Homo sapiens: one gene and its partner. The protein of the gene in region 1 purifies or fractionates together with the protein of each later gene. This does not show direct contact. Each region holds a gene or a part of one and is shown in the gene's direction. Other genes may lie near its edges.

What was found.
Region 2: the proteins of NDUFA5 (region 1) and MCCC2 fractionate together in Homo sapiens (co-fractionation; one large-scale study listed by BioGRID). This does not show direct contact.

What each region holds. Positions count from the first base shown.
Region 1 is NC_000007.14:123,540,622-123,544,446, reverse strand, and holds part of NDUFA5 (NADH dehydrogenase [ubiquinone] 1 alpha subcomplex subunit 5), read left to right. Parts: intron 1-2,226; coding exon 2,227-2,328; 3' UTR 2,329-3,825. UniProt on the Homo sapiens protein: Accessory subunit of the mitochondrial membrane respiratory chain NADH dehydrogenase (Complex I), that is believed not to be involved in catalysis. Complex I functions in the transfer of electrons from NADH to the respiratory chain.
Region 2 is NC_000005.10:71,646,148-71,649,972, forward strand, and holds part of MCCC2 (methylcrotonoyl-CoA carboxylase beta chain, mitochondrial isoform 1 precursor), read left to right. Parts: intron 1-63; coding exon 64-130; intron 131-2,949; coding exon 2,950-3,106; intron 3,107-3,825. UniProt on the Homo sapiens protein: Carboxyltransferase subunit of the 3-methylcrotonyl-CoA carboxylase, an enzyme that catalyzes the conversion of 3-methylcrotonyl-CoA to 3-methylglutaconyl-CoA, a critical step for leucine and isovaleric acid catabolism.

The sequences.
Region 1 (3,825 bases):
GGCTCACCACAACCTCCGCCTCCCGGGTTCAAGCAATTCTCCTGCCTCAGCCTCCTAAGTAGCTAGGATTACAGGCATGTGCCACCACATCCAGCTAATTTTGTATTTTTAGTAGAGACAGGGTTTCTCCATTTTGGTCAGGCTGGTCTCGAACTCCTGACCTCAGGTGATCTGCCTGCCTCGGCCTCCCAAAGTGCTGGGATTACAGGCGTGAGCCACCCTGCCCAGCTCAAATTTTTTTTATTTGGTGAAATTTTGTTGTTCCACACCCCTACAACCCTCATATTATAGGTTTAGAATGTCTTCATCTTATAAGTGTCTGATAAATATTCAATTGTTTCATTTAATTTTATTTTGTTGCATCTTTTTTCAAATGTAACCCTTTCTAATGTTTTCTTACTGTTGATTGAAGGACAGATAAAAGGAAATATTGGATAATATTGGAGATTAGGGAGGTATATCACCAACAGACATGATATACCAAATCAAAAGAATTGTTAGATGGCTCTGGAAAAAGAGGAATATAGCATTCAGACAGCTTTCTATGAATGTAGACTGTTTCAGTTATTCAAAGGCCTGTTTACCTGGCCTTTATATTCGTCAGGTTGGCTGTGGTACTAGATACAGTGTTATGGGAACTTGCCGCAAACCTTATACTGTTGCCCTATACCTATTTCTCTTTTCTGTACCACCTGATTTCACTTTGATCATGACTTTATTTAGTTGATACATCAATTTTTCATGGAATTAAGTTTTAAGGCATATTAAGTATTTTTAAGTCAGCTGTGCAGTTCCCCATGTTTTCATGGTCAGTATTAAGGGTAAATTAATTTTAGTATTTTTTTAACTCAGTATATGTAGTATATTATTTAAATATAATCATAAAAATATTGAGATATTTTACATTCTTTTTTATATGAAGTCATCAAAATCTGGTATGTATTTTACACTTTGCAGCACATCTGAATTTGGACTAGCTGCATTTCAAGTCCCCAGTAGCCATGTATGGGTAGTGGCTAACATATTAGACAGTCCCATTTCTAGATGGATGGTATGATGGTGTGTCAGAAAGGAGGAAATAGGCATCAGGGGCCAGGTGCAGCTGGGTCCAGGTTCCTGAGATAGGGCTGATTCTCAAGGATGAATGAGGCCTAGGTGACCTCCTCATGCCCTATAATGGCTGGGGGAGATTGAGAAAGCATTGGATGTTCGTGAGACCCAGGGCAACCTTAGGAAATATTTTATCAGTATTTAAATTATTTTCTCCTTTTGGCATTAGTAATACCTCTACCCCTGATTTCCATTCATCTGCTCTTTAACTCATTGTTTTTTATAGTTGCTTGTAAACATAGATTGACTTTTGGGACCGCTGTCATAGATGGGGTATTATCTTTTAACTGTGTAATAATAATTACCTTGAATATAATCTGAGCGCTTATTCTGTGTTTGAATTTCTTTTCTAACATCCTGACAGGTGTTTAATAGTATTCATCTTATAAGTTGGCTAGAGTTGTCATAAATATTGTTTGTTGTAGAAAAAATATGAAATAAAAAGCTACCTAAAATGTGTGTGTTAAATATAAGTTGTGTTTGAAAGGAAAAATTAAATGAAACATAATTTGATTAAGGAATTTACTCAGTTAGTAAATATTAATTATACATGTATTGTGTTCTACATTCCATAGATCACTGTTTTATAAACTCTGGGTCTCAAGTGACTGTGGGTCATGGAATCAGTTAGTTGGATAGTGATTAGCTTAAAAAAACACAATAGAAAAAAGAATATATCACTGCCAGTAAAGATAATAATTTAAAAAGTTTTAGTTATATGTTTGTATTGTGGAACTCAAAATAAAACATATTTTCTTACTGTGGGCCATGGTAAAATAAAGTTTGAAAGCCACTGACATAGATGAAAAGACATACTTCTGATGCTCAAAAAACTTGTGAAATATTATTAAGATAAAAAACCTCACCAGCTAAACTTTTAAACACTATAGCCTATTTCAATCAAATAGAAGATAACAAAAGATATCCTTTCTTACTCCTGATTATGTAGATGTGAGAATTAAGGTAATTTAATTACTTAATATTCAACATTTGATGGTGGAATAGATTATGAGATATTAAATGAAAGTAGTAACTAATAGTTAAATTTCAGTTGTTCTGATAAATATCTGTTGAAGAGTAAAATCCAATGATCTTTTAAAAAATTTGTATTAACAGGCTGAACATGAACTAAATCTGGCAAGAAAAATGAGGGAATGGAAACTATGGGAGCCATTAGTGGAAGAGCCTCCTGCCGATCAGTGGAAATGGCCAATATAATTATTAAGTGACTTTGGTGTGTTCATGGGAAACTGATGTAATTAAATATTCTGTTATATTAAGAGCGTGTTCTTATTACTGACATTTTGTAATCAAGAAAAGTGATATAGAAAATATGTAGGAGACTGTTAAAATTGGTGATTATGGTAATATGGTCATGTGAATCAATTTTTGATTTATAAAGTACTCACACAAGTTGTTTCAAAGATGATATTTCTGTGAACAGAGAGGCCATGGGAAGATTTGAAAATTATTAAAGAAAAATTCCTACAGATTTTCAATGCAGAGACCATAATCAAAAAGTAAACTTTCTTTAGTAGTATGTTCAATACATCATTTAATTTTTTAAGTTATCCTGAAGAAGGAAAGGTCCTTAATTATTATAGTCTAAACAAATTTATAGATTACTGTTTGAAGTAAATAATACGAGTGAATATTTTCAAATGTGATAAAATAGCACAAGTGGCTGGTGATAAAATTTGAAATTATGGTTAACCTCAGCTGTGATCTTATGTATGTAAAGTGAAATTTAAATAGATAATTATAGGTTGATTACAAAATCCATAGTGTCATTTTATTTTAGTCATTATTGAATTATACCATTTACTCTGTTTTCTTATAGTCTTAATTTTATTATATTTTGTTGTTACTGTATTATATTTGAAAACCTTCAAATTAGAATACATTGTACAGTTAAAGAAATTGACTTGGTACTTAAAAGAAAGATTTCCCATTGCATACAGGTTATTGGAGAAATTTTCCTTTTGTTGCATTTGTGGAAGTTAGTTTTCTGGCCCGTGGCCTTTAATTTTCTTAATCAACCTAATTACATCAGGATAGAGGTAGAGTTTCTGTAAAAGAAGAGACATTAAGAGTTCCTGAAATTTATATCTGGCATACGGATAGGCTTATATTCAAAACATCTTAGTCATACGACCATAAATTAAAAGTGGAGTCACTAAATAGTTTGCAGTACGTTTCTAATATAAGTGTAGGTGGGTATCAAAACAAGACAAATGCTGTTCAGGGAAAGAAGTTGGCAAGCTTAAGGTTAAACAAAAATAAAATTACATGTGTTTTCGCCTTCCTAGCTCCCTGTCATTCCTAAATACTTGGTTAAATTTAACGTGGTATCTCTTTCCTTCATAGATAGTACTATACTCTTGTGGGGTTTTGTGTATACGTGTGTGTGTGTGTGTGTGTGTGTGTGTGTGTGTGTGTGTGTGTGCACGCGCATGCGCACATTTGCTCAGAATGAGAAAAAAATGGTATTTTTCCTTCTTTCCAGTATATTTCTCCCCTCATAGAGCTGTAACATGAATACTAAATAAATATTAAATAAGGTGGATTCTTAGAGGTTAGAGTGCAAGAAGGCTCCTTCTGGTGGGGAAGTGTTAGAGGGGGAGTTAGAAGCCCAGGGTTTCTCATTCTCATGGTTCTAGTGTTGTTAACTCAATGACTACATTGAGGCAAGTTTGGCCTGTTTCTCAGAATGGC
Region 2 (3,825 bases), on another chromosome or scaffold:
GAATGCATGATGATAATAGAGTTAATTCCCTTTTAAAAAGATTTTTATGTTATTTGCTTATAGGGTACTCACTTTGTCCAGTTATGCTGCCAAAGAAATATTCCTCTGCTGTTCCTTCAAAACATTACTGGTAAGAAAATAGCTTAATCAGTTTGGTTGTATTGATTCCAGAGCTGTACCATCAGTGTGGCTCATGTATTGGACAGCACACATGTAGACCACTTCATCAGAGCAGGAAGTTCTACTGGACATGCTCTTTCTGGAGGCCCTTTAAGAGTTAGCACTTTTCTTCATGCATGTTAAATATTCTGAGGAGATTATCCATATTTTCTTTCCCCCAAGTAGCTGGGCCTACAGGCATGTGCCACCATGCCTGGTTAATTTTTGTATTTTTGTAAGACGTAGTTTCACCCAGACCATGTTGCCCAGACTGGCCTCAAACTCCTGAGCTCAAGCAATCTGCCCGCCTTGTTCTCCCAAAGTGCTGATACTACAGACATGAGCCACGAGCCACCACACCTTGCTGATTATCCATATTTTCTAAGTGAAGCTATTTCTGAGTTATGTACCTGATCAGCATTCACATGGCCACCCTTTACTCCTGTGTGTGCACAGCCACACACCCAGAAAGCAGCAGGAGCATGATCTGATCACTGCAGAGAGCATCATGCTTTTCCTAGGACCCTTTTCCTCCTCAAGATTTCAGGCACGTGCTACGGTCTTCCCTTTTATTGTACAGTTAATTCAACTTAAGTAACATCATTTTAAAATGTATGTGTATACCCTGAACCAAAGTCTGGGGATTTGAGTTTTGGCCCCAAAGAATGGTATGACCAAAGTGAGATATGTCACCTCTCTGGACTTTACTCCAGAGATGACCTTAACATGGTGGATAAATTGATTTTTAAGGTCTGTTACGGTTGAAGAGTGAATTCTCTGATTCTCTGGTATCCTTCATTATATGTTGCAGAGTGTCTGAGATATACAGGGCACTCAGATATGTTGGTTAGCAGAAAACAGCCTCCCCCATCCCAGGCTACCTCAGCTTCAAAGGAAGGAGAGGCTCTTAGTACTTGTTGGGATCATGCAAGCCTCTTTGAGAAGGAAGAGTCAGGCTCTTGGCAGTCAACAGGGCTTGAAATAGTACTGGTGCTAAAGCATCTTCATCCTGTGAGCTACTTAGGTTCATGATATTTGGTTAGATGAATGTTGAGAGAAGTTATATCCAAATGGCAGCCTAAGAGGGTCCTGCATGGTAACTTATGTAAAAGGGCAGATAGAAAGGATTCTGAAGCCTAACTATACCAGAGTTCTTGTTTTTAATAATGATTCCTGGATTGTTAACCACCAGGCAGTTAAAACTCTGTGGTTTGAAGATATCTACATTTTTGTTTTGTTTTGTTTTGGCCCTGTTGGGTTGAGTTTAGTTTTTCAGCATTGCATTTGAGGTTCCTGTGGGATATTCACCTGGAGGCATATAGTGGGCAGGTGAATAAGTCTCAGCACAGGAGAGGTGTTTTAGGTAGAGATGCAAATGTAGACATCATCAGAATATGGAGGTAATTTTAAAGCTGTGGGAATAGATAAGAACCCCCCTGAGAGAAGAGAAGAAGGTTCAGTGACAGTCTTCGAGTACCTCTGATTTTTTCCTTTTTCTTCAAGAGTAAAGGAAGATGGGGAGCATGATTATGCAGTTTTCTTAAGATTGGAAGAAGAAGGATTTGAGAAAGCGAAGTGAGATGCCTCACTCTTCTTTTTGAAGGCAGGATCCCCTCCAGAGAATAGAGGGATGGTGGGTCGGGTTGGGTGGGGTGAGAACTTGAAGACAGCTGATATTTGAAGTAGGTATGGTGGGAATGTTACAATGGAGTCAAGGCTGGGGAGATTGAGGAGTTTCTGAGCTTTTCTGAGGGTCCAGCTGAGTAGGATAGCTGCAGGAAGCAGATGGTGCCAAGTAAAGGGCTGTGCTGCCATTCCTGTGGTGACTGCAGAAGGCACACGTGCTCTGGAGGAACTGGTTGGGTTGAATTGGATGACCAGATACTGGAGTTTGGCAAACCAGGGATAGTGGCAGTCAATGAGGCAGGTGAGTCTGCAGGCCCACAGATGGAAGAAATGCCTTTGCTGGAGACTTGCGGGGTAAGGAGACAAGCGAAGCCCAACTCAGTGTTATAAGGCAGAGAAAGAGGAACCCAAGTTCTGGAAGGCAGTGAAGTTGCAGAGCAGCCTCCACAGAGCTAGGGGCTTGAAGAAATAGAAGGATCCTCTATTGAAATGGAAAAATAGTTTTTTTTTAACCTTGCTATTGAGTCACTGGCAGGGACTGTTAGCATCTCTATGAAACATTCATCTTTATGTCTTCAAAGTTTCAAAGCATCACTTTAGAAAGAACAGTCTGTTTTAAAACCAGGTCAGTGAAAGCTAAAGCCCTCATAGTTAGGCTCATCACAGCACTTTGTCCTTAACTAGCCATGTCACATTCTTTTCAGCATCAAGCTGCTTCTTTGACATCATCTCCTTTTTAAAATTTTTATTTATTTATTTTTAAATAGAGGTAGGGTCTCGCTTTGTTGCCCAGGCTGGTCTCAAACACCTGGCCTCAACTGATCCTCCCGCTTAGGCTTCCCAAATTGTTGGTATTATGGGGGTGAGTCACTGCACCCAGCCAAGATCATCTCTTGAAGATAGATTGCATCCTCATATTGTTTGAAGGTTTCTGTGTGCATCCAGATGAACTGCTTTAAGAAAATTTAGAAAGTGATTAGAGAAAATTTTATTTTATCCTTTTAAAGCAAACTTTTTAACGGTATGTTTCACATATAAACATTTTCTTAAGGCGAGAGGCATTTAGTAAGATGAGTTTAGTAAAACAAGATGTCCTTTTGGTGGAATTGCGTTCCGCATATTAATCCCATCACCCAGAGGCTCTCTTTCTGATCTTTCTCTCAGGATTTATGGTTGGTAGAGAGTATGAAGCTGAAGGAATTGCCAAGGATGGTGCCAAGATGGTGGCCGCTGTGGCCTGTGCCCAAGTGCCTAAGATAACCCTCATCATTGGGGGCTCCTATGGAGCCGGAAACTATGGGATGTGTGGCAGAGCATATAGGTAGGTGTCATGATTTTCTCTGAAACAAAGAAACATGCTTCAAGTATAAAATACATGGTCAGTTTATTTCAGGTGTATTTGAAATATAGAATGCCATTCCCAGATCTCAATCAATTATACCGTAATTTGTATCATTTGGAGGGGTGAAATGAAATTTAATGCCAAAGGTGTTATTTGGAAGAAATCTACAATGGGAGTCAAGAAATACTTGAAATGGCTGATAATGAAAATGCCACACATTAAGATTTGTGCAGTGCAGCTAAAGTCTGGCTCTGAGAAAGGTATGTAGCCTTAAAGGCATATACGGGAAAAGAAGCAAGACTGCAAGTCAGTGAGCTAAGCCTTCATCTGTGGGAAGTTCAAAGAACAGCACGTTAAACCCGTGACAAATAGAAAGGACATAATGAAGAGCAGACATCAGATAGAAGAATCAGTATAGCCCAAAGTTGTTTGGTTTGAAAGTTCAACAAACTTGATAATCTTATGCTTAAACTAAAAAATAAAGAGAGACAGCACATATAACCACTATCAGGAATGGAAAAAAGGACATGACTGTAGATCATGAGAGGATATTATGAACGCTTTTATACCCAGAATTACATGGAGAACTTAGAAGTCCCATCTGTGCTCAGGACCCTCCTCTGGAGTCTAGTCTGGGGTGTGTTCCAGGCATTTGTATATTTGTGAAAGCTCTACAGATGATTGTAATGTGCAGCCAG